Linked DNA regions of Homo sapiens. The protein of the gene in region 1 interacts with the protein of each later gene in a pairwise test. Each region holds a gene or a part of one and is shown in the gene's direction. Other genes may lie near its edges. The genes, in order: AKAP8L, HEMK1, FAM222B and TRIB3.

Region 1 (7,885 bases):
GCCTGGCACATGGTAAGTAAGCACTCAACTAGTGTCTGGCTCAAGAAAAAAGTAGATCTTAGTTAATTCTTACCAAAGTCCACAAGTACATTGAAGAGCAGCGAACTGGGACTCTGAGACGTGAGGTGACTTGCCTGAGGCCATACAGGCCAAGTCAGAAGTCAGAGTCAAAGCCACGTCTTGAGCCATGGAGCTTGGGCTCCAGGCCTCTGTGCTGTGAGGCCTTTTTAGGTGCCAGGAAGACAGGAGGAGGTGGGGGGCTTGGTGCGTTGGGTAGGATTTGCTTCTCTGTGCCCTCTACTGTCTCAGATTCTATGTATCTGCCAGATGGCAGGGGTACCTGGAAGCCAGTAGCCCTTACCTGGCACCAGTGACTTCTGAGCACAGAGGCAGGGGTCTCTGTGAGACCCTGCCATGACCCCATGGTGAGTGGAGGTGGCTGTCCATGGGAAACGCCTGACTTCTGGGTCCCTCTTCCCCCGCCTCCTGGGCTGGCTCTGTCCACACTGAGTAGCAGCAGGTGTGCCCAGGGATGCTGGCAAGGCTATGCTTCCGCCTCTCCTCACAGCACTGGCCACTCCCTCTCTCTGTTCCCCCATGCAGGTTCTGTGAGGTGGAATTCCAGGGCCCCCTCTCCATCCAGGAAGAGTGGGTGCGGCACTTACAGCGGCACATCCTGGAGATGAACTTCTCCAAAGCGGACCCCCCACCTGAGGAGTCCCAGGCCCCGCAGGCACAGACAGCGGCGGCAGAGGCTCCCTAACACAAAAGCATTCCAGATCCCCTCTCGTGCCACCTCTGTCTCCTCTTCTTCCTCCTCTGTGTCCTTGTCCCTCTTCCTCTTTCTTTCCGTTTCCAAAGGAGCAAGCCAAAACCTCAAACCGGCGCCCCTTGGGGGCCGGGCACACTACAGCCAGGGCGCCGGGAGCCAGCTAGCTGCCCTTCCCCCAGCCCGAGGACTCTGGGGCCACAGGGTGTCTTCCTTCAGCCCATGCCCACCTGGTCCAGCAGGGGCAGCAGCCAGGTCTCTGATGGCAGCCGGTCTGGTCACAGGGGAGGACAGCACTCCCCCGTCTAGCAGCCAGGCAGGGCGATGTCTGCCATCCGTGGCCATTTGCAAAGACCCCAAAGACCCCTGTTCTGGTTCCCTCTCTCCCCCATGAATATCCTCTCACACACATGTACATGCGAACACACACAACACGCACCTCGTGAGACCCGGGACCTGCCCCGGACCCCCAGTTCCTGGGTTGAACGACCACATCATGCCACGGTGCTTGCTCAGGGGAAGCCACGCTCCCTCTGTGGGGCCTGCTGGGGCCTGGGAGCCCCCCACTGAGCCCACAATGCCACGGAAATCCTTGTTGGCTGCCCCCGAGAGGGGCCTTCCCAGCTGGGAAGAGCTCAGAGCTGACAGCTGCCTCCTGCCATGTCAAGGCCCCCCAAAGAGCCTCAGGGGCTCTGGGGCCCTGGAGGGTGGGGTTGGGGGGTGGGACTCTCCTCCCCCACTCCTGCTCCCTCTCCCTTTTCACTGTTGCTTTCTATGTATAGCTCCCTAGACCTTTCACTTTTTTAAAAACGCGTTTTGTGTAGAGAATAAGGAACGTGGATCTTTTTATTTTGCAATCCTGGGCCAGCTAGAAGCCAGGAGCTGATTGACCTTTTAACTTTTTTCAGTGGCCACATTTTGGTTATCGATGTACCTAGAAGTATGTAAATTAGATTAAATTTCTCTTCTGGAAACACCCTGGGGCAGGCGGCCAGCGTGTGTTTTTCTGTCAAGTGGACAGGCTGGCATTGGCTGGCAGCCGGGGCTGGGATCGGGGCCTCCTCTGTCCAGAGCGCCATGGAGGCCCTGGGTTTTCCAGTTGGCCGCCAAGCCGACCAGACGCAGCTGGGGATGAGCCCAAGTTCCCAGCTGTTGGCTCTTTAGGCCATGGCTGGGAGGGGGTCTCTGGCTGGCTGGCAAAGCGGCTCCAGTGAGCAGATGAACCAGGGTTCTGGGCAGCCTGTCTGGGAAGGGAGCCAGGATCAAGAAGCAGTTGAGGCTAGAGGAGCTTATCAAAGGCAGGAGCTACCAGCGAGGGTGTCAGGGACCCGTTGGGAGCATTTGGGTGGGGGCCAGTGGGGTTGTAGAGAGCTGGAACTCACCTGCTTTTAATACATGTGACTTCTAGTGAGACACATGCACCCCTGACCCAAGGAACATGCGGGGAAAAGAGGAGCCACTGGCTCCTTTGCGATGTTATTTATTTTCTCGCTCTGCAAATGTTTATTGAACATTTCTGAGATTTTAAGAGATTTTGTTGGCTGCTCCTTCTTGTTTATTGCATGTGGTTTTTCAGCTCATCGTTTTTACTAAACGGTCAAGTGCTGGAGAGTGGGAACGACCTCATGGCGTGTGGACAGAAGGGGCCACCTCTACCCCCAGCCCTGCTTTCTGGGCCCTCCCACCATACCCCTTCCTGGGAAGGAGGGATTAACAGGCTGCAATAACGCCCACAAGGGTGGTCTTGGCCCACACGTCTGCTCCTGTGGGGTCAGGACGCACATCTCGCCTGGTGGCAGAAGGCCGCAACCACTTCTCTCCATCCTGTGCTGTGGGTGGGTGGATGTATCCAGGACTTAGGAAGCAGGGAGAGCATCTTGTGAGCTGACTCAAAGGTGTTTCTTCCTCTTTCAACTTTTCATAAGTCAGTTTTTATTTTTTTATTTTATTTTTTGAGACAGGGTCTCATTTTGTTGCCCAAGCTGGAGTGCAGTGTAGGGACCTCGGCTCGCTGCAGTCTCTGCCTCCTGGGTTCAAGTGATTCTCCTGCCTCAGCCATCCAGGTAGCTGGGATCACAGGCATGCACCACCACCCCTGGCTTATATCTGTAATTTTTGTAGAGACGGGGGTTTCACCATGTTGCCCGGGCTGGTCTTGAACTCCTGAGCTCAAGTGATCAGCCTCCCAAAGTGCTGGGATTACAGGCGTGAGCCACTATGCCCGGCCCGTAAGTCAGTTTTTGAAATATAAAAGTGGTATAGGCTAGATGTGACAAAAAACAGTCAAATGATACAAGAGCTTATAAAGTCATATGGCAAGTTCCTCCCCACCAATCATGCAGTGAAGTGAGGGTCATGTGTGTCCTTGGAAGAGTCACCTCCAGTTCTTGCAGGGGGATGTTTTCCTAAAACTTTCTGAGCATTGCTCTTCTCTGCTCAAGCCACTTCAATACACCTCAGGCAGCAAAGTCTCAGCTTTTGAGCCGTGGTCTCTGAGGGTGTTGGATGTGAACGAAATCAAATCGGTACAATGATGACTGTGGCAAGTGCGATGAAGGAACGAACCTGCAGGGCGCAGAAGACGTGTCCTGGGGCCCTGCCTTGGTTTGGAAGACAGGCAGGCATCCCTGAGGCTGATGGGGAGATGAACCCCGAAGCCAGAGTGCTTATCCGTCAGATCTCTGCTTCATGTTTGGAGTTTGCTCACTTAACACATCAGAAGTGGCTTTGTTCCGTATGGCAGCAAGTTCTGCAGAAGCCTCATTTGGGTGGGGGGAGTTTTATTAAAACAGTTTATCATGGAGAATTCCAACTATACAAAAGTAGAGCAAACAGTAAAATGGACTCTCATCTATCCATCACCAACCCATGACCAATGTCTTCAGCTGTCAGAGATTTATCTTATAGCTCCTTGCTTCCTCCTCCTCTCTCTACCTGTCTGAATTGTGTGAAGCACATCCTGGCCATAAGATCAGTTAACTTCTTAGTATTTCAGTATGTTTCTCTCAACGTTGTAAATGCCACTATTACACCTAAAGAAATCAACAATATCAAAAAGAAACAGCATACCTTAAAAAAAGTTTTAAAACACACGAAGCGTAGAAGTCGTAATTGCGCAGCTTAATGAGTTTTCACAAACACACGTGTTAAGTACTCTTCGGTGCAGCTCTGTCATCTCTAGAAATTATGAGTTGTCCCTGGCAGGGTTTCCATATGCCCAGGAAACAGACTGAGGACATGACTGGTGCCCGGCTGCACTATTGCAGGATCTCTCGAGCCCAGAGTGAATCAGGAGGGTTTTAGAAGCAAAGCTCCCATTTTAACACGTAACTGTCAAGGACCTTGAGCAAATCATGAGTTCCAAGCTTCAGTTTTAAGTGAGGATTAAAAGCTTTTTGCAGGTTTGAAGGAGCATTCGAATGACACACAATACAAACGGAATTATTACACATATAAGCATATGCCATATAAATATATTATCGTTTTGTTACGATTAATCACATTTATTCAGTGCACTGGCACCAGAATGATTTCTTTACACACACTTTGTCACGTAATGTTGAAACGTGTGTCCAGCATCTTGTTTGGTGCTGTTTTAATTTTCTCTTCTCAACATGGCTTTGCTATGCTTGTTTTGGAGCCGAAGGCCAGAGAATTTGAGAGACTTAGCTAGGTCCCCTACCCAGCACCTCGGTGGCGGAGTTGGCATCCCAGCCCTGCCCTGAGCCGTAGACCCGACTCCCTCTGGCGGGTCTCCAGGGTACGGGCGCTCCTCCAGCCCGACCATGCTTGGGCCTTGGGCCTTTCCGTAGTGCACAGCTCCGCCCCCTCAAATTCTATAGGACTCCGCCTCTCTGCCGGCTTCTGTAGGCCAATCACTGAGGCCTTAGAATAACAGAAGGCGGGGACAAGGCGGGGCTCTCACGAGATTGCCAGCAGCTTCCAGCCACTGATATGAGGAGGCATAGAGATAGACAGCGGTTCCTTCCAATAGACGTGAAGCCGAGGCCGGTATGAGCCAATGCGGTCGGGAGGCGGGGCTCGGGTGTGTGTGGAGGGGACCCTGTGGTTAGCAGCAGCTATCGCAGCGTCGGATGTTCAGAGCAGCAGAAGCCGGCGTCGTCGGATGTTGTGTTGCCCGCCACCATGAGCTACACAGGTGGGCCTGGCAGGGTGGGGTCGGGCTCTGCGTGGGGGATGGGACAGGGACGTGCGGATGCCGCACCAGGCTTGCCCGCACCTCCCCTGGGGCCCCGTCACTGCCTTCCCTGCGGTCACAAAATGGCGCCGCTGGCCCGTCGCCTCAGGGTCGCTGCCCTCACGCCTCGTTGCCTCAGCTCTCTGTGTCTGCAGCCGGCGTCCCGGCTCCCGGCCGCCTGATGTCTTGGCTTCTGTCGCCTGTGTCCGTGGGTCCGGGCCTCAGCGCACGAGGTCTCCGCCCCCACCACCTCCGTCCCTGGCCTGCGCTCCTGGACCTCGACGCCTTAGGTTTCCCTTTCTCAGGCCTTGGTCCTTGCGAGCAGGCAGCAGGCTCGGCTGCCGTCGCCATTGTCGCGTCCTCCCCCGCGCAGTTTCTCTGCAAAAACGCCGCAGCTCTACACCCCCATCCCGATCCCACCCACCACCCCCTTTTGTCTATTTCAGAACTGGGAAAGGCGCCAGGCCCTAGGGGGATAAGTAAATATTGGAAGGGTTTGGGCTGAGCGGGGAGCCTTGGGCCCCTAGGGGCTGAACTGCAAGGAATGACAAGGTTCCATGTTAATTCCCTCTGCGTCTGTCAAATGAACCGTGTCCGGTACAGACTGGGTATTGGGAATACAGACAAGAATTCCTCAAGCAGCTTAGAGGCGAGGATCTTAATAGGCAAATAAGCGAGTGTAGGATATATTTTAGGGTGGTCAGTACCGTGCGGGGGTCGCTCCACTACGTGGAGTGGTTGGAGCCTTCTGTAAAGAGGTGACATTTGAGCAGAGACCTAAATGGAGGGAGCGAATAAAGATATCTGGCCCAGGGAGCTTTTGCTGTAAAAGGCTTACGGGCAGGAACTGCCTGGCTTGTTAGAAGATCAGCCAGGGAGGCCAGTGGGAGGCCAATGGGATTTGAAAGGGAGAGTGGGTGACAGATCCGAGAGCCCCTCTCCGCCCCCCGCAATATGCTTGGGCGACTGTAAATCATCACTGGGTGAATTGCCAAGGCCTCCTGGGTTTGCCTTGGCAGTGACTGATGAGGCTTCTCGGCCAGGAGACTTACACTAGGCCTCCCTGTTTGGTGAGGGTATTATAGGCTTGAGCGTGTGTGGTTGCCAGGTAACCTGCATTCTACTTGGAATTTTGAGAACTGAGAATGCAACGTGAGTCTGTGGGGCTCCTTTGTAGACCACTTTATGTTGGCATAGGCAAGAAGGTAGTGCCAGTCCCCTCTACCCTGGCTGCCAGGTCAGGAGCTTTCCAAGAACCCCAGTTTTTCTAGCAACCATCCCCCAGCCCAGTGGGTTCTCATCCAGGGGTGATTCTGCCCCAGATGACATCTGGCAATGTCTGGAGACATTTTTGGTTGTCACATATGGGAGTGGGAGTGCTGCTGGTATCTAGTGGATGGAGGTTTGGGATGCTGCCCTGCTACGGTATACACAATGACACCTACCGCAAAGAAGTATCTGGCGTCAAACATCAGTAGTGCCCAAGTTGGGCAGCTCTGCCAGAGCCTTTCTGTAGCTTTCCTAGTTCAGGAGGAAAGACTATGGGGTTGTTACTGACATCCCTGGGATTGGAATATAATTCTCACCAAGTCTTACCAAGAACTGGAAGACAGTTTCATGGTTTTTAAAAACAGGACTCTTGAAGAAACCAGAAGATGAATGGTTGGGTGCTGTGGGGTAGCTGAGTAATGGAGCTCTTTTTTTTAATAGATGAGGAAACTGAGATACAAGGTCACTAATGACCAAACCTGAATTCCAGCTCTAGGTCTTGTAGGCTGTAGTTCTGGGTTTGGGTGGGCACTGAGATAGCCAAGCTAAAAAAGTAATGATTAGTTTTTCCTTTATCTTGATAAACTGAAAACCACAGTAATTTACAATGTGAGTCTTCCCCTTATTTAAGAAGTAGGGCACTAAAGTCAAAGGCATTTTAATTCACATTTCAGACAACTAATAGCTTTAAGGGTAAGTCCTAGAGGCCTCGAAGCAAATGTTAGCATTATTAAACATAAAAGGTGACTGATAAATCTTTTTATTAACTCGCCCTGCTTTTGAACCCTGTTACCTTATTTATACGTGGGAAAGGAAGCTGCATCTCTAGCACTGAGAGGGGAAGAGGAGAGCAGTGGTAAACAGCACAGAAATATCCAGAATCAGGCCCTCAAACAAAGGTCTGAAATGCTACTGTACTTGTCATAGAAACATTTATTGTCTCACACAGTTTCTTTATGTTTGGAATGGATAGGTGATTTCACTGGGTGGTTCTAGCTTGGAATATCATGAGGTTACATTTAGGATCTCTATGTGGACTAGAGTCATCTGAAAGCCTGACTGAGGCTGGAGGTCCCACCTCCAAGGTGACTTAAACTCCCATGCCTGGCAGGCTGATGCTGGCCAATAATTCTTGGCCCCATGGATCTCTCCCTAGGGCTGGCTGCTGGAGTATCCTCACAACATGGTGGCTGGTTTTCTCCAGACTGAATGATCCCAGAAAGAGCAAGGCGAAAATCCCAGAAGTCACACTCAGTCATTTTCATAAATCTTATTGGTTGCACTGGCTAGCTCTATTAGTTGGGAGGGATCTACATAACGTTAAGAGGCAGGAATGGAGACCATCTTTGAGGATGGTTGTCACCCTACTCTTGGCTCAGATAATAAAGATTGAAGGCAACCTAACCTAATTCCAGTTATCTTTTAATTTTTGGTACTCTGTGTTACTCCTTCAAATAAGACTCTTTTTTTTTTTTAGATCAGGCACGGTGGCTCACACTTGTAATCACAACACTTTGGGAGGCCGAGGCAGGAAGATTGCTTGAGGCCAGGAGTTTGAGATGAGCCTGGGCAACATAGCAAGACCCTTTCTCTATAAAAATTAAAAATAAAAAAGTTAGCTCTGCGAGGTTGAGGCTGCAGTGAGCCAT
Region 2 (3,180 bases), on another chromosome or scaffold:
TCTCAGATGTTACAGTTTTTCTTGTTATGTATTATACAGAGAGATGGCCTAACTGGTTCTTGCTGCTGCATGGGCAAGCCATTAATTTACAGGGGTTTATCTTATAACTGGACACCTTTTTGTTTTCTCTTACAAGATGTGCTTGTTGTTGCTTCTCTTGGATTTTCTACATTGACATTTTACCACTGAAAATAATGACAATGACAAATTTGTCTTTTCCTTTCTTTCTTTTTTTTTTTTTTGAGACAAAGTGCCACTCTGTTGCCCAGACTGGAGTGCAGTGGCGCGATCTCCCAGGTTCAAGCGATTCTCTTGGCTCAGCCTCCCGAGTAGCTGGGATTACAGGCGTCCACCACCATGCCAGGCTAATTTTTTTTTTGTATTTTCAGTAGAGACGGGGTTTTGCCATGTTGGCCAGGCTGGTCTCGAACTCCTGACCTCAAGTGATCTGCCACCTCGGCCTCCCAAAATGCTGGGATTACAGGCCTGAGCCACCACACCCGGCCTGTCTTTTCCTTTTTAATACTTATGGCTCTTATTTATTTTCCTTGTTTAATAGCTTGGCTGAGACCTTCAATACAATATTGAAAAACTGTAACGACTAGAGCATTTGTATATTGTTTCTCACTTGGGGTGCCTCTGGTCCCTCCCTGTCAAGTGCACTTGCTATTGATTTTGGATAGATGGCCCTTTTCTACTTAAAAATGGTTCAGTCTAGTTCTGGCTGACTCTGATTTTTTGTTTATTTTAGAGGCTTTTTTTTTCATCTTTCATTCATGCAACAGACCTTCAGTGAGCTGATTGCCAGGACTACACTGTCATACTGTGGTACCAAAGAAAAATTGACACGGTCCCTACTCATAAGGAGTTCATGGCCTGGTGGAGGATACAGGCAGGCAAATAGATCCTTATCCTTAGGCCATGGGGCATGCATTCAGTCACCATCTGCTGGCACTGTGCCAGGCACAAGGAATGGGCACTATTCAGGCAGGCCCCCATCACAGTCTGGTGGGGTCCAAGCAGTTCACATCCCCTCTCACTCAAGTTCCCACAGAGTAGTTGCAATGGTGAGCTGAGGTTTTCTCTGCTGCAGAGGCCAGGTGGGTAAGTAACCAAAAGTGCCTGAGAGCTAATCCCCTGGAGCAGCCTGAAACCAAGGAAGACAGAGAGTTGGTAGACACATGCCCAGCTCCCTCACCCCTTGGGTGGGACAACCGTGGCTTGTGTTTTCTGCCAGCTCCCAACTGAAGACTGAGCCTCAGTTGCCTACAGAAGGAACCCACTCATAAACCCACCTACCTCCTTTGGCTTCCTTTCCTTCCCTGTCTCACCCCCTCTCCCATTTTATATCAATAAGTGTGAAGGCTGAGATTTTATCCGACTTTCTTTTTTTTTTTTTGAGACAGAGTCTCATTCTGTTGCCAGGCTGGAGTGCAGTGGCGTGATCTTGGCTTACTGCAACCTCTGCCTCCCAGGTTCAAACGATTCTCCTGCCTCAGGCTCCCGAGTACTGGGACTACAGGTGCGCACCACCACACCCAGCTATTTTGTATTTTTAGTAGAAACAGGGTTTCACCATGTTGGCCAGGATGGTCTCAATCTCTTGACCTCATGGTCTGCCCACCTCGGCCTCCCAAAGTGCTGGGATTACAGGAGTGAGCCACCGCGCCCGGCTTATCCGACTTTGAAGCAAACAAGTTAGTCTATCATAGTCTATCATATTCTCAAGGATCATGGCAGAAGGCACAGAACTCTGGGTTCAGAAACAGACAACAGATTATTGTTTACAGTAACGGCAGTAGACAGAGTAAAAGCATTTTCTTGCACCACTTCCCTGAACCGCAGTTCCTACAGAGTGATGTGATGATGGCCCGGTGATGCCTGCATATGCATTGGGTTGCACTACGGTGGAGAAACTGCATGCTGAATTTAGGGGACCCACGTCTTTTATAATAAGCTGCAAGCAAACCTGCCCAGGTGGGAGATGTTATCTTTAGTATACGGGACAATAAAATCTGCCTTTTGCTCTGGAGGGAGATACTACCTCTATCTTCTAAGGTTACTCACTATAATAATCACCCTTGTAAAGATTATTTAGAACAAGGGCAACCAGTGCCTCTACTGGCAAGTGTGCAGAAATAGGAGAGAACCATGGGGAATTGTCTCTCAATACCTTACTGGTGCTTCTTGGCATTACTTCCCAAATAATCTATTTGCATTTGGATGCTTGTCTCAGAGTGGTTTCTGCAGGAAAAAACCCAAGATAGAGAGACAACACTATATAGGCATCGATGTATTTCTGGGGTGACTCTCTTTCCTCCAGACCTCTCCTGCAAACAACGCAGGGGAGCCACGCAAAGGAAGAGGTTTCCACACCTGGGATTGATACTGCTGGGACTCCAGGGCAGGTGCTCTAAAGGACTCTTAGAATTTCATTTTTAATGTTTAATATTTGGTCCATCTAGAATTTATGGTGGAAGGTGTGAGGTAGACGTTGCACTTTTTTTTCCTTCCAAATTGCTCCAATATCACTTACTGGAAATTGTGCTTTGTCTGTTACCACTCTCTTCTAATCTGCCTGTGGCCTGTTCCTTAGAGTGTATCACAAACATACAAGTGATCAATTTCCAATAAATTGATTAAAGAATTCATGTGCATTCCCATTTTGTCAAACCACTGATTTGACACTCAGTGCTGATGCAGTGTGAGACAAACCCAAACACCCACTGTCATGATAGCACCGTTCAGGTTCTAGGGCAATGCATGGAGGTTGTGCTTTTGCTAACTGCAGAGCAAACACTACTTCAGCCTTCACAGAGAATTTAACTGTGAATAGTGAAGATTTCTTTTCTTCTCTCTGTTTCTTTTTGAGAAGAGTTTTGCTCTGTCACCCAGGCTGGAGTGTAGTGGCACAATCATGGCTCACTGCAGCCTCGAAATCCTGGGCTTAAGTGATCCTTTGGCCTCAGCCTCCCAAGTAGCTGAACTACAGACATGCACTGCCATGTGTGGCTAATTTTTAAAATATTTTTTGTAGAGAAAGGGTCTCACTATGTTGCCCAGATTGGTCTCAAACTCATGGACTCAAGCGATCCTCCCACTTTGGCCTCCCAAAGTGCTGGGATTACAAGTGTGAGCCACCACACTCTGCTAAGATTTCTTTTCATAAAAACATTTAGC
Region 3 (7,035 bases), on another chromosome or scaffold:
GAACTGCAGGGAAACCATGGTGAGACCATGGTGGCTGGAAGTAAGTCAGCAAGAGAGGGCAGGGTAGGTCAGAAGGTGAGGTCAGAGAACCAGTAGTAATAGATCATGGAGGGCCTTGGGGTCCATGTTAGGATTTTGTATTTTATTCTTAGATGGAAAGTCATTAGAGATATTTAAGCTGCTCTGACTTTCAGTTAACAGAATTGGCCGGGCGCGGTGGCTCACGTCTGTAATCCCAGCACTTTGGGAGGCCAAGGCGGGCGGAACACGAGGTCAAGAGATCGAGACCATCCTGGCCAACATGGGGTGAAACCCCGTTTGGGCCAGGCACGGTGGCTTACGCCTGTAATCCCAGCACTTTGGGAGGCCGAGGCGGGCGGATCATGAGGTCAGGAGATTGAGACCATCCTGGCTAACACTGTGAAACCCCATCTCTACTAAAAATACAAAAAAAAATTATCCGGGCATGGTGGCAGGCGCCTGTAGTCCCAGCTACTCGGGAGGCTGAGGCAGGAGAATGGCGTGAACCCGGGAGCGGAGGTTGCAGTGAACCGAGATCGCACCACTGCACTCCAGGCTGGGGAACAGAGCAAGACTCCATCTCAAAAAAAAAAAAAAAAAAAAAAAGAACTAACATTGCTGAATAGAGAATAGATTGGGTGATAAAGGGTAAGCGTGGAACAGACCATTTAGAAGGCTAATAGTAATCCCATCTAGAGATGATGAGATGACAGGTGAAGTTTGTTACCTGTTTCCAAGGCTTGAGAGACTCAATTAAGAAAACATCACTAAAGCCCCTCATACAGCCCATTTCACAGTTTTAGCTCCCAGTACTTGTTAATTCTCTTCCTTTCCTTGGAGTTTGCCTTCAGCTGTGTTAGGGTCTTAAGGGAGAAGTTATTATGTAAAGATCAGCATCCAGACCCCAACAGAAGTCTCTCTTTTTTTTTTTTTTTTTTTTTTTTGAGACAGAGTTTTACTCTTGTGGCCCGGGCTGGAGTGCAGTGGCGCAGCCTCTGCTCACTGCAACCTCTGCCTTCTGGGTTCAAGCAGTTCTCCTGCCTCAGCCTCCTGAGTAGCTGGGACTACAGGCATGCGCCACCATGCCCAGCTAATTTTGTATTTTTAGTAGAGACAGGGTTTCACCACGTTGGCCACGCTGTTCTCGAACTCCTGACCTCAGGTAATCTGCCCGCCTCGGCCTCCCAAAGTGCTGGGATTACAGGTGTGAGCCACCGTGCCCGGCCAAGACTTTTTTTTTTTCTTGAGGCACTGAAGTTGGCTCACTGTGTTCATTCTGTTTTCCCACCCACCAGAGATCTTAAAAAGACTGACGCTGTGCCAGAACTCTTGGACAGCTCTGTTCTCATTAAGGCATTCAATCTTCAGTTCTTTCTGCAGTTGCTATCTTAGACACAGTTTGAGCAGCCTCTTTTACAAAGTGTCTTTTCAGCTACCTGGTCTTGGAAGCAGGAGCCCTCTGATACTCATCATGACAAGGTAGTTTAATATACCTGAGAGAGCCCTCTCAAGAAAATAAGGAGATTTTTGTCGTCTTTAACTTTTGAGCTTTTCCCCCACTCCTTTTTTGCTGTGATCTAAAGCCATAATTTGCCACCTTGGTTTCTGAAATATGGGAAAAGAAGTTCGTGTACTTATTTAGGAAAATCGTATTTCTGTTACCTAAGGAGCTTGCATTGTTGACAGGGCTTCTTTCGCTACAGAAGGCCCCATCAATGTCTGCTTGCTTGGGCTGTGTATGTCTGGTTGGTAAACATCACTAATGAAACTCGTGCGGTCTTGACATGTCAGGATTGCCTGCACGAAGAGAGCTGCTGGCAGCCTTTCTCCTTGCTTTAGTCTGGGAGCAATGCATTTCTTTTGAGGGGGTGGGAGAGGTAGTTCAGGAGGTCTAATTGCATGTCAGGAAGGGTGAAGCCCCAGAAATTTGCAAACAGAATTTGCTTTAACAGTGGTTAATTGTGCCTCCTAGGATGCTTTCCTCCTTCCATTTAAAAGTGAGTTCGGCCGGGTGCGGTGGCTCATGACTGTAATCACAGCACTTTGGGAAGCTGAGGCGGGCGGACCACCTGAGGTCAGGAGTTTGAGACCAGCCTGACCAACATGGTGAAACCCCATCTCTACTAAAAGTACAAAAATTGGCTGGGCATGGCGGCATGCGCCTGTAATCCCAGCTGCTAGAGAGGCTGAGGGACGAGAATCGCTTGAACTCAGGAGTCAAGGGTTGCAGTGAGCCAAAATTGTACCACTGCACTCCAGCCTAGGTGACAGCAGAACTCTGTCTTAAATAAATAAATAAATAAGTAAATAAATGTAAGTTCATGGCCGGGTGCAGTGGCTCACACCTGTAATCCCGGCACTTTGGGAGGCCGAGGTGGGCGGATCAACTGAGGTCAGGAGTTCGAGACCAGCCTGGCCAACATGGTGAAACCCCGTCTCTACTAAAAATACAAAGAAATTAGCCAGGCGTGGTGGCGGGTGCCTTTAATCCCAGCTACTCGGGAGGCTGAAGCAGGAGAATCGCTTGAACCTGGGAGGCAGAGGTTGCAGTGAGCCAAGATCGCACCATGGCACTCCAGCCTGGGCAACAAGAGTGAAACTCCGTCTCAAAAAAAATAAAATAAAAGTGGGTTCATATTACTGGCTCACAAGTCAGACATTGGGTACCTTTGCAATCATATAATGTGCTGCTTCTGAAAATGTCTGGCTGGTCTCCAACCAGGCCTATAAATGGGCTGGCTGAGCCAGGCCCTATGAGGGCCCACTCTCCTCAGGAATACTGAGACATTATAAATGCACCTGTACTTTCCAGTTGTATGAATAGGTGCTTTCCAGTTTTATTTCTCCCATCCATACATCTGTGGTAACTGAAAAATCATTTTAACCATAGTGATATTTGACAGCAAATTGTCGTCACAGATAAAGATGTAAGTATACTTTCAACCAACACACTGCTAATTAAATTGCTTTATGTGTCTAAACTTGGGCCTCACGCCAGTCATATCCAGTGTTCCTACTCTCTTCTTCGAATGAGTTGCCTTGTGTTTCATGACCTTGTTTTTGTTCATTACAGTGTGAGCCACTGCCCCATGTTGTGTTGATGCCAATCTGCCATGCTAGCCTGTCTACCAGGGCCAGGTGACCTGTCCTTTCAGCTTCTTTCTCACACGCAGATGAACACTGGACTTCAGAAATGTAAGTAATCTGGATCCTATGGAGCATGTGTGATTCTTTGTTTTTGTCTCTACATTTGGGCCGTCCTTGAAGCACATCTGGGGTACACTGACCTTGAATTTTGACACCTTTCTTTTTTTTTTTTTTTTAAGACGAAGTCTTGCTCTTGTCACCCAGGCTGGAGTGCAATGACGCGATCTTGATTGGCTCACTGCAACCTCTCCCTCCCGGGTTAAGCAATTCTCTTGCTTCAGCCTCCCGAGTAGCTGGGATTACAGGTGCCCACCACCATGCCTGGCTAATTTTCTATTTTTAGTAGAGATAGGGTTTCACCATGTTGGCCAGGCTGGTCTCAAACTCCTGATCTCAGGTGATGCCCCTAACTTGGCCTCCCAAAGTGCTGGGATTACAGGTGTGAGCCACTGTGTCCAGCCATTAGGGGTCTGCTTAAATTCTGTAATTCCCCATTGTATCTCAATTTTAATTGTTGCTGATAGCTTTCTGTTGAACAACAAAACTATAAAGAGCTTCAGGGGAAATATATATATATATATCACCCTTAAAAAAGGTGTTTCAGTTTGAACCTTCATAGGGAATTGAATGAAAACTCACAGTCCAGATTACTTACTATATCTCTGAAATAAACTATGCTGTTCTCTTGTTTTGAACTCTCTTAGTAGTCTACCATGGAAACAGACAGTTCCCTTTGGCTTTGCTACCTGCCTTCTGAGTCAGTGTGACTTTAGTTCACAGGAAGTCAGGGAGCTTTTGCCCTCAGAAGAGATGGAGAGCTAGCTTTCTCAGTCTCTCTGGGCATTTTCCTGCTAATACACTTCCCAGAAGATTGAGCCTTTGAAAACTGTTAGATTCTTGTCTTAACTTTCTGGAATTGGGGTTTTATACTTCATATTTTCCCGGACTCCTTCCTACCTTCTCTCCCTGTAATACATGATCTGCAAGGAAAATATTCTATTCTTGGCACATTACCATGTATAGTATCTTCAGGTGTAAAAACAGCCCTAAATTTGGAATAGACCTTCCATTCAGAGCACAAAGGGGAAATCATTGAGGTGGCTAGGCTTCCCTTTGATAGGAAAGGTGCTTCAGCACCTTAACTGAACCCCTTATGACAGGGGTTAACAAACTTTCTGTAAAGCCCAGATAGCCAATAATTTAAGCTTTGTGGGCCATGTGGTCTCTGTTGCATCTACTCAACTCTGGCATTGTAGGGCAACGGCAGCCACAGACAATAAACAAATGAGGGTGTCTGTGTTCCAGTGAAACTTTTTTACAAAAAAACAGCAACTGGACCAGGCACGCAGGCTGTCGTTTGCCAGCCCCTGCCATGTGAGAACATCATCAGAAGTTAAAAATGGTCCAGCCTTTAGACTTCATTTCTTTGAGAGAGCGTAAGACTCAGAGCCTGGCTAGTTCTGGAATTTGGCCAGTGAATCCAGCTCTATGTAATAACAGCTGAAGGTGGTAGTCCTCCTTCTACAGTTGCCTGACACAATAAGGCAAGCTCTGCTATAGCTTTCTCAACCCATCCTTTATCTTAATAAGTGATGATTGGGTGATGAAGGTGTTATGTTATACTCTCTGGTCATCCAAATCAGCATCCTAACTGCATCGTGCCTATTTCTGGGCTTCTGGGGACACAACTGGAGAGGGAACGTACTTAGAGGCATGCAGTAAGATGACAAAGAGAAGCTTCCTTTGTTCTGGGTTCCTTAACACACTCTGACAGCTTTACCCAAAGATGTGATATCAAGGGAAAAGCCATTTGGAGGACGGGCAAATTGGCAGCTTTATCTTGGTGTTCACTTTTATTATTTTTATTTTTTTTTTAATTATTTTTTTTAGATAGAGTTTTGCTCTTGTTGCTAGGCTGGAGTGCAATGGCGTGATCTCGGCTCAACGCAACCTCCGCCTTCTGGGTTCAAGCGATTCTCTACCTCAGCCTCTTGAGTAGCTGAGATTACAGGCATGCACCACCACGCCCAGCTAATTTTGTATTTTCAGTAGAGACAGGGTTTCTTCATGTTGGTCAGGCTGGTCTCGAACTCCCGACTTCAGGTGATCCGCCTGCCTCGGCCTCTCAAAGTGCTGGGATTACAGGTGTGAGCCACCACACCCAGCCCACTTTATTTTATTTTATTATTTTGAGGAGGACTTTTGCTCTTGTCACCCAGGCTGGAGTGCAGTGGCACGATCTCGGCTCACTGCAACCTCCGCCTCCCAAGTTCAAGTGATTCTCCCGCCTCAGTCTCCTGAGTAGTGGGATTACAGGCATGAGCCACCATGCCCGGCCCTTTTTTTTTTTTTTTTTTTTTTTGAGATGGAGTCTCCCTCTGTCACCCAGACTGGAGTGCAGTGGCGCAATCTCGGTTCACTGCAACCTCCATCTCCCGGGTTTAAGCAGTGCTCCTGCCTTAGTCTCTCGAGTAGCTCAGATTACAGGCATGCGCCACTGGAAATTTTTTCTTTCTTAATCCTAAACCTCTGCTCTGTATTTCCCCTTCTCAGGATCACAATATAGTAGTGGCTCTGTAAATATTTACTGTTTGAATAGCTGATAAAAGGTCCTTGGTCCTTAAACCATCTTCAGATAACAACTTTGATTTCCTTCCATGGCAGAACACTGGGGCTCTGGGGACAAATGCCAAAATTACCTTCTTTTACTGCTTCTTTATGTGCATATCTGCCCCCTAGTGGAGGGGTCTGGAAATGGCAGATTGACCCAATGACTGGATAAAGTCATAGAAATAATAGCTAACATTTGTCAAGTTGCTACCATGTGCCAGGCACTATATTGAATATTTTCACATATGTTGTCACCCATTCCTCAAAAATTCCATATGGAAGACTCTCTTGCCTTTGTCAGAAGGATAAGGTATAGAGAGAGGGTTTGTCACTTGCCAGTGCCACATGACAGTCCTGTGACTGGCCCATACTCAGCTCAGACTCTGAAATCTGTGTTTGAACACATTGCCTGTGCCTCTCTGCCTACAGATAGAGGTTCCTGTTGCCTATGCCACCTGTGCCCTCTGACCTTCAAAACAGAAGGATGAACAGAGAGGTCTCCATTGGGAGGACTGAATTTCAGGCAGAAAATTGCCTCCAGTCCATCCTGGAATAGACAGCAGTGCTTTCTGTTACATTTAACTCTCAGGCTGAAGGCCAGGTTGTCCTGCAGTTGGGGCTTCCTTAGTCAGTTTTCTTTGTGTTGTCTGTGGTCAGACTCAGCCACATCTGCTATCCTTGAATGGTAACTATTGACCATCATTGTTTCATTTTCAATGAAAATGCTCATTTAGTGAAAATGTTCATTGACTCTCGATCTTAGTAATTCTGTGAAGTAGGAGAGCAGAATTCATCCCTGTTGATAATTGAGGAATGACAGGCTCTCAGTATGGGCAAATGATGAAGCTAGTACTTGAATACAGGTTTCTCTAACCCTTTACAAACTACAGATTTCCTATTCCCTACATTGTCTATGTCTCTATTAATGACACTATTGGTATAAGCTATTTAAGTAAGTCGCTTACAAAGCTGTGGTATCTGTGTTGGCTGTGTAGTTACAGAAATACATTACAGAAGAAAATAAGTAGTCAGGGTGCCTGTGTGGGGGCTGTGATAAGTGTTGAGAAAACTTTTTTTTTTTTTTTTGAGACGGAGTCTTACTCTGTCACCCAGGTTGGAGTGCAGTGGTGCGATCTTGGCTCACTGCAACCCTGCCTCCCGGGTTTAAGCAATTCTTTGCCTCAGCCTCCCGAGTAGCTGGGATTACAGGCACCTGCCACCATGCCCGGCTAATTTTTTGTATTTTTTTAGTAGAGA
Region 4 (7,035 bases), on another chromosome or scaffold:
ATTGTCAAAATGCACTCCTCAGAGGTGGTACCTTTTATCCTCCCACTAGCACTGTCTTCATTGTTAGTGGCTGCACTGCCACTATTCCACAGTATAAACCCACTTTTCATGACACTGCCAAGACATAAGGGTCTGAAATACTTAACAGTTTTCTTCCACAGTCCCCAAAATACAGGCTTCTCCCCCAGCTCAGGACATGAAGCCATCATCCCTCCTCATTGCAGGAGCCAAAGGCTGGACCTCACCTCGATTCCACCCTCTCCTTCACCCCTCACATCCAATCCATCCAGTCCATCCAGTCTGCCACTGAGTCCTCTTGATCTTCCTCCTATGAGCCCTTAACTTCGCGTCTCCATCTAGCACCCCCTAGTCCAGGTCACCTTCTCCTGCCTGGACTCGTGCTTGTGTGGGCCTCCTAGCTAGTCTCACTGCCCCGTCTTGTACTTTCAAATCCACCCTAAAAGCATGATGTTCCCCTGCTGAAATCCTTCAGTGGCTCCCCACTGCCTTTGGATAATTCCAAATCCTATTGTGTGTTAATTAGGATTAGGCTCAGCTGTAATATAGAAACAGCCACTTAATAGCTAAAATGAAATAGACGTTTTTTTCTTCTTTTTCTCTTTTTTTGAGACAGAGTCTTGCTCTGTCCCCAGGCTGGAGTGCAGTGGCGAGATCTCAGCTCACTACAACCTCTGCCTCCCAGGCTCAAGTGATTCTCCTGCCTCAGCCTCCCGAGTAGCTGGGACTACAGGCATGCACCACCATGCCCACCTAATTTTTGTATGTTTAGTAGAGATGGGGTTTCACCATGTTGGCCAAGATGGTCTCGATCTCCTGACCTTGTGATCTGCCTGCCTCGGCCTCCCAAAGTGCTGGGATTACAGGCATGAGCCACTGCGCCCAGCCTTCAATAGATGTTTATTTCTCTCCTGTGTAAAAAACCTGGAGGTCTGGCCTGACAACTCCATGTGTCAGGGACCTAGGCTCCTCTCTTGCTCTACTGTATGTGGTACTTCTGAAGCCAAGGTAGATGCTGGAGCTCCAGCAGTTAGGTCCACATTCCAGCATACAGGAAAGGAGGAAATGAGGAAGTTGGGCCCTCCCTTTAAGAACACTGTCCTGGGCATTGTACACAACACTTCCACTTGTGTCCTACTAGCCATATGCTGATACAAGGATACAAGGGAGACAGGAAATGCAGTTTATTCTAGGTGTCCTTGTGCTCAGCTGAAAATCTCAGGTTCTAATCCTATGTAAGGAGGGGAGACCTGAAACTGGGGACCACTAACCACCTCTGCCATATGATGCTCGTAGAGCCCTTCACAATAGGGCCTCTACTAACCTCACCTTATTTTTATTTATTTATTTATTTTTGAGACGGAGTTTCACTCTTGTCGCCCAGGCCGGAGTGCAATGACACTATCTCAGCTCACCGCAACCTTTGCCTCCTGGGTTCAAGCAACTCTCCTGCCTCAGACTCCTGAGTAGCTGGGATTACAGGCGTGTGCCACCACGCCCGGCTAATTTTTGTAGTTTTAGTAGAGACGGGGTTTCACCATGTTGGTCAGGCTGGTCTCAAACTCCTGACCTCAGGTGACCTGCCTGCCTCGGCCTCCCAAAGTGCTGGGATTACAGGTGTGAGCCACCACGCCCGGCCTATTTTTTTTTTTTTTTTAACTTTTCACTTTTTTTTGCAGTCACGCTCATTCTCCACCGTGTTCTTGGGGAACATGCAGCATGTTCTTTTGCCTCTTCCCTCACCCCAGAACAGGGGTTACTGGACAGCGGCATCAACTTCACCTGGGAACTGGATAGAAATGCAGATTCAGACCTTCTGAATGAGCTACTTTGGGAGTAGGGCCCAGCAATGTATGTTGAAACAGGCCTCCAGATGATCTCAATGCTTGCTCAAGTTTGAGAACCACTGAACCGCAGTATGACTCTCCGTGTCACCTGGCTAACTCTGCCTCACTTTCAGGTCTCAGTGTAGACACCACCTCTTCTAGGAAGACCTCTCTTGACCCACCAGCCCAGGAGAGAGGCCTCTCTGGGTTCCTAGAGGCCCATGCTTCTCTGTATAGTAGGGCTGATCACACTGTATGTGATTTTTTTTTTTTTTTTTGAGAGAGTCTTTACTCTGTCACCAGGCTGGAGTGCAGTGGCACAAACATGGCTCACTGAAGCCTCAACCTCCCAGGCTCAAGCAATCTTCCCACCTCAGCCTCCCAAGTAGCTGGGACTACAGGCATCCACCACCACACCCAGCTAATTAAAAAAAAATTTTTTTTTGTAGAGACAGGGTCTCACTATGTTGCCCAAGCTGGTCTTGAACTTTTGGGTTCAAGCAGTCTTCCCACCATGGCCTTCCAAAGTGCTAGGATTACAGGTGTGGGCCACTGCACCTAGCCTTGGACGTGATTTTATTACTCATCTGCCCTCCAAATTGACTGGAAGATCCTGACGGCAAGACTGCTGTCTAACCTACTTCTCTTCCTAGCACCCAGTGTTAAGTGAATGAACAAGATCATATCTCTCATCTGTGAATGTACGAGAGCCATGGATTATGAGATTAGTTGATTTTCTTAACTATAATTTTTAGAAACAAGCTGTGTTTTTAAGCAGGTATTTATTTCCTTAAATGTACATTTCTGATTACAAAATACTTTTTTTTGAGACAGAGTCTTGCTCTGTCACCCAGGCTGGAGTGTAGTGGCACAATCTCGGCTCATTACAACCTCTGCCTCCTGGGTTCAAGCGATTCTCCTGCCTCAGCCTTCCCAGTAGCTGGGATTACAGGTATGCACCACCACGCCCGGCTAATTTTTTTTTTCTCCCGTGACGGAGTCTTGTTCTGTTGGCCAGGCTGAAGTGCAGTGGTGTGATCTCAGCTCACTGCAACCTCCACCTCCCGGGTTCAAGTGATTCTCCTGTCTCAGCCTCCCAAGTAGCTGGGATTACAGGCCCACGCCACCACGCCTGGCTAATTTTTCTATTTTTAGTAGAGATGGGGTTTCACCATGTTGGCCAGGCTGGTCTCAAACTCCTGACCTCATGATCCACCACCTTGGCCTCCCAAAGTGCTGCCGTGGGCTGCACTTTGGCATTGCCTTGGTCACGTGCTGCTACCTGGGATTACAGGCATAAGCCACTGCGCCTGGCCTAATTTTTGTATTTTTTAGTAGAGACAGGGTTTCACCATGTTGGCCAGGCTGGTCTTGAACTCCCAGCCTCATGATTCGCCCACCTTGGCCTCCCAAAGTGCTGGGATTACAGGCGTGAGCCACCACGCCTGGCCAGGAAATACATTTACATGGCTCAAATTCAAAACTATAAAAGTCGGCCAAACATGGTGACTCACATCTGTAATCCTAACACTTTGGGAGGCTGAGGCAGGAGGATTGCTTGAGCTCAGGTGAGACCAGCCTAGGCAATGTAGGGAGACCCCCATCTCTACAAAGAATAAAAAAAAATTAGTCAGGCATCATAGTGCACACCTGTAGTCCCAGCTACTTGGGAGGCTGAGGTGGAAGAATCACCTGAACCCTGAGGTCGAGGCTGCAAGTGAACTGTAATAGTAAGAGTCTCCTCCTAATCTTGTGCATCCTTTCAGAGAGAGAGATGATAGATATTCAAACAAATACATACATATATATAACATATTTATATATATTCTTTTTAACATAAAAGTATAGCCAGGTGTGGTGGTTCACTACTAGAGTCCCAGCTACTTAGGAAGCTGAGGTGGGAGGTTCACTTGAGGCCACGAGTTTGAGACCAGCGTGGGCAACATCTCTTGGGGAAAAAAAAAAAAAAACCCACCATAAAAGCATTCTATAACACGTAATTCTGTGTTTGTCTTTCTTCTCTTAATACATCTTGGAGATCAGTACGCATCAGTATATAGAGAGCTTCCTTGTCCTTTTTCAGGGCTGTGTAGTATTCTGCTGTATGGCTATACCATGATGTTTTCACTAGCTTTCTACTGCCTGACATTTGGGATATTTCCTGCTTTTGCTATTGGACACAAGGCTCTGATGAACAGCCTTTACTATATTTAATTTTTTTGTGAGAAGTTTAACTGGAAGATAAATTCCCAGAAGTGGGGCACCCAGTTAAGGATATGTGACTTTGTCATTTTAACACACACTGCCAGATCACCCCCTATAAATGTTGTGCCACGTATCCTCCCACCAGCAGGGGAAAGGAGGGGCCACCAAGCAGTCTCACTTTAGTGCTTTTCTCTCCTTTTTACCAGATGCGAGCCACCCCTCTGGCTGCTCCTGCGGGTTCCCTGTCCAGGAAGAAGCGGTTGGAGTTGGATGACAACTTAGATACCGAGCGTCCCGTCCAGAAACGAGCTCGAAGTGGGCCCCAGCCCAGACTGCCCCCCTGCCTGTTGCCCCTGAGCCCACCTACTGCTCCAGATCGTGCAACTGCTGTGGCCACTGCCTCCCGTCTTGGGCCCTATGTCCTCCTGGAGCCCGAGGAGGGCGGGCGGGCCTACCAGGCCCTGCACTGCCCTACAGGCACTGAGTATACCTGCAAGGTACGTGCCCATGGGCGGCTGTCCCCCAGCACCACAGGAGGCCTGGGAAGGAGGCCTCCAAAGGATTGCCAGGGTGCAGAGGGGTCCTTATGTTCATTCATTCTTGTGTTTGTTTAGTGGGGAAGCATCCAGGGAGCCCCTGCTGGACTGATACTAGAGAGGTAAACCAGAGGTCGTCCCAGTCCTGGGGGAGTTCACAGCTTAGGCCCTACAGTGTGATAAATGCTGCAGGGGTAGAACTTAGGGATCATGGGCGCAGAAAAGGCCGAGCAGAAGTTAGCCAGGTAGAAGTGGGAGATGGGAGTTGCAGGCAGGGGGAACAGCTGTTCAAAGGCCTAGAAAAGTGAGGGGATAGCACTTTAGAGAATGAAAAGGACTTCTCTGTGGCCAGAGTGGAGAGGATGTGCAGAAAGGGGCAGGAGATGAAGGTTGGCAGCAGCTGGTCATGAAGGTGTTAACAAGGGGCCTCCACTGGGCTGTGCGGAGCTACTGAAGATGTTTGCACAAGAGAAGGGTAGGGCATGGTAGACATCAAAACTCCTGGGACCTCGGAGGTGATCGAGCCTAACCTGGGGCCATTTTACAGATAGGAAGACTGAGATGAAGACAGGAGAAGGGCCATGCGTGAAGTCACATAGCACTGGGCCTGGCTCCTGGGGTAAACTAAGGGGTAGAAAAGTCTGAGGATTCCTGGCAGAAACCAGGAAATGGACAGGGTCAAGGCCCCTGAGGGTCAGCCCATGCAGGACACTGACAAGTGACAGTCCAAGAAGACAGAGATGAGAATAAAAAGTGTAACAATAGGTATTCACTGTGCACCAGGTACTATGATGATTGCTTAGTGTGCACAATCTCTTTTAATCTTGACACAACCAATGAGGTGGTTTCTATCATTGTGCCCCTTTTATAGATAGAGGACACTGAGACTCAGAAAGCCATGGTTACTTGCCACATGACAGAGCCAGGTGGTATCAGAGCTGGGATTGGGCCCAGGAGGCTGAGCCCAGAGAGTCCTGTGCCCGTGCTAGGATAAGCGTTTCACACAATCAGGGCAGGCTGCCCTGGCAGGCAAGCATAAGGAAGATAAGGGGGACCTGGAAACCCAAGGGAGAGTAGCGGGGGCCTGGGTCCCTTGGGAATGCACAGAGAAGCAGAAGGACTTAAGCCTCCTCCTGGGGCAGCAGCAGAGCTTTGCTCTGTTGACGGAGATGCAGTGAACAGCGGGGCAGATCCAGACAGGGTCCAGCCCCTAGCTTCACCTGGCCTCTTGTGCACAGATCTCCAGCGCCCTTACCAGGTGCCCTAAGGAGCCCAGAACTCTGGGTCCCCTTCCTGCAGCATCACAGGCTCTTTTCCACTCCCGCTGGGGAGGTGAGTCCATGATAAGAGGAATAACCCAAGCAGGCTCAGGAGAGAAGCGCCATGCGTTCACAGGGCCCTGATTCTCAAGAAACATTTGGGAAAATCCACTGGAACATACTCACCCCTATGCCAATGTGCACCATGGGTGCTGAATGGTCATTTCCACACTTCCTCAGCTTTTCTGGTCAGTGTGTAGAAAGATCAAAATCTTGTCTTTGTAAATGATCAACTTATTCATTAATTCAACACAACTTCATTGAGCACCCGTATTTGCCATGTACCATGCTGTGGTTAAAAAACAAAGTTCTGTTCTCATCAAGCTGACGTTCTAGTGGGAGATACAGACACTAAACAAGCGAATAAGTAAAATACGTGTCAGGTGGCCGGGCGCGGTGGCTCACACCTGTAATCCCAGCACTTTGGGAGGCCGAGGTAGGCAGATCACCTGAAGTCAGGAGTTCGAGACTATCCTGGCCAACATGGTGAAACCTTGTTTCTATTAAAAATACAAAAAATTAGCCGGGCATGGTGGCAGGGGCCTGTAATCCCAGCTACTCGAGAGGCTGAGGCAGGAGAATCTCTTGAACCTGGGAGGTGGAGGTTGCAGTGAGCCGAGATCACACCACTGCACTCCAGCCTGGGCAACAAGAGCAAAACTCCGTCTCAAAAAAACAAAAAACAAACAGGAAAACCCTTATTCCAGCATCTTTCTTGGTTCCTTTGCAATGCTTATCAGCATTTGTCAATATTTGGTTTCTGGGCATGTTTGCATGGCCTCCCAGTGGGCACCGGAGAGCAGAGCCCATGGCTGTCAGTCTAGCTGGACATGTGGCTGGCCCGTGCAGGCCCAGGGCCAGCATACTGAATGAATGAAAGCGTGGGTGGGCAAAGAGGACGGGAGCTGTGACGGTGATGAGCATCAGGTGCCTTCTGCATCATCCGCCCTTCCGGATTCCTCCTGCTTTGTGGGTTATTTTTCTGTTTGGGTGACCTGTTACTTTTCAGTTATCCGATGTTTGAGGCCATATAGCGTAGCAGTTAAGAGCACAGACAAAAGGCCGGGTGCAGTGGCTCACACCTGTAATCCCAGCCCTTTGGAAGGCTGAGGCGGGAGGATCACCTGAGGT

Evidence for each region.
Region 2: the proteins of AKAP8L (region 1) and HEMK1 interact in binary tests that used the Homo sapiens proteins (3 or more experiments, as listed by UniProt).
Region 3: the proteins of AKAP8L (region 1) and FAM222B interact in binary tests that used the Homo sapiens proteins (3 or more experiments, as listed by UniProt).
Region 4: the proteins of AKAP8L (region 1) and TRIB3 interact in binary tests that used the Homo sapiens proteins (3 or more experiments, as listed by UniProt).

The regions. Positions count from the first base shown.
Region 1 is NC_000019.10:15,415,954-15,423,838, reverse strand, and holds the start of AKAP8L (A-kinase anchor protein 8-like), read left to right. Parts: upstream 1-4,850; 5' UTR 4,851-4,915; coding exon 4,916-4,928; intron 4,929-7,885. Other genes in the region: protein Wiz, read left to right, coding at 604-763. UniProt on the Homo sapiens protein: Could play a role in constitutive transport element (CTE)-mediated gene expression by association with DHX9. Increases CTE-dependent nuclear unspliced mRNA export.
Region 2 is NC_000003.12:50,593,520-50,596,699, forward strand, and holds the end of HEMK1 (MTRF1L release factor glutamine methyltransferase), read left to right. Parts: 3' UTR 1-2,647; downstream 2,648-3,180. UniProt on the Homo sapiens protein: N5-glutamine methyltransferase responsible for the methylation of the glutamine residue in the universally conserved GGQ motif of the mitochondrial translation release factors MTRF1, MTRF1L, MRPL58/ICT1 and MTRFR.
Region 3 is NC_000017.11:28,762,767-28,769,801, reverse strand, and holds part of FAM222B (protein FAM222B), read left to right. Parts: intron 1-3,094; 5' UTR 3,095-3,134; coding exon 3,135-3,216; intron 3,217-7,035.
Region 4 is NC_000020.11:383,756-390,790, forward strand, and holds part of TRIB3 (tribbles homolog 3), read left to right. Parts: intron 1-4,255; coding exon 4,256-4,546; intron 4,547-7,035. UniProt on the Homo sapiens protein: Inactive protein kinase which acts as a regulator of the integrated stress response (ISR), a process for adaptation to various stress. Inhibits the transcriptional activity of DDIT3/CHOP and is involved in DDIT3/CHOP-dependent cell death during ER stress.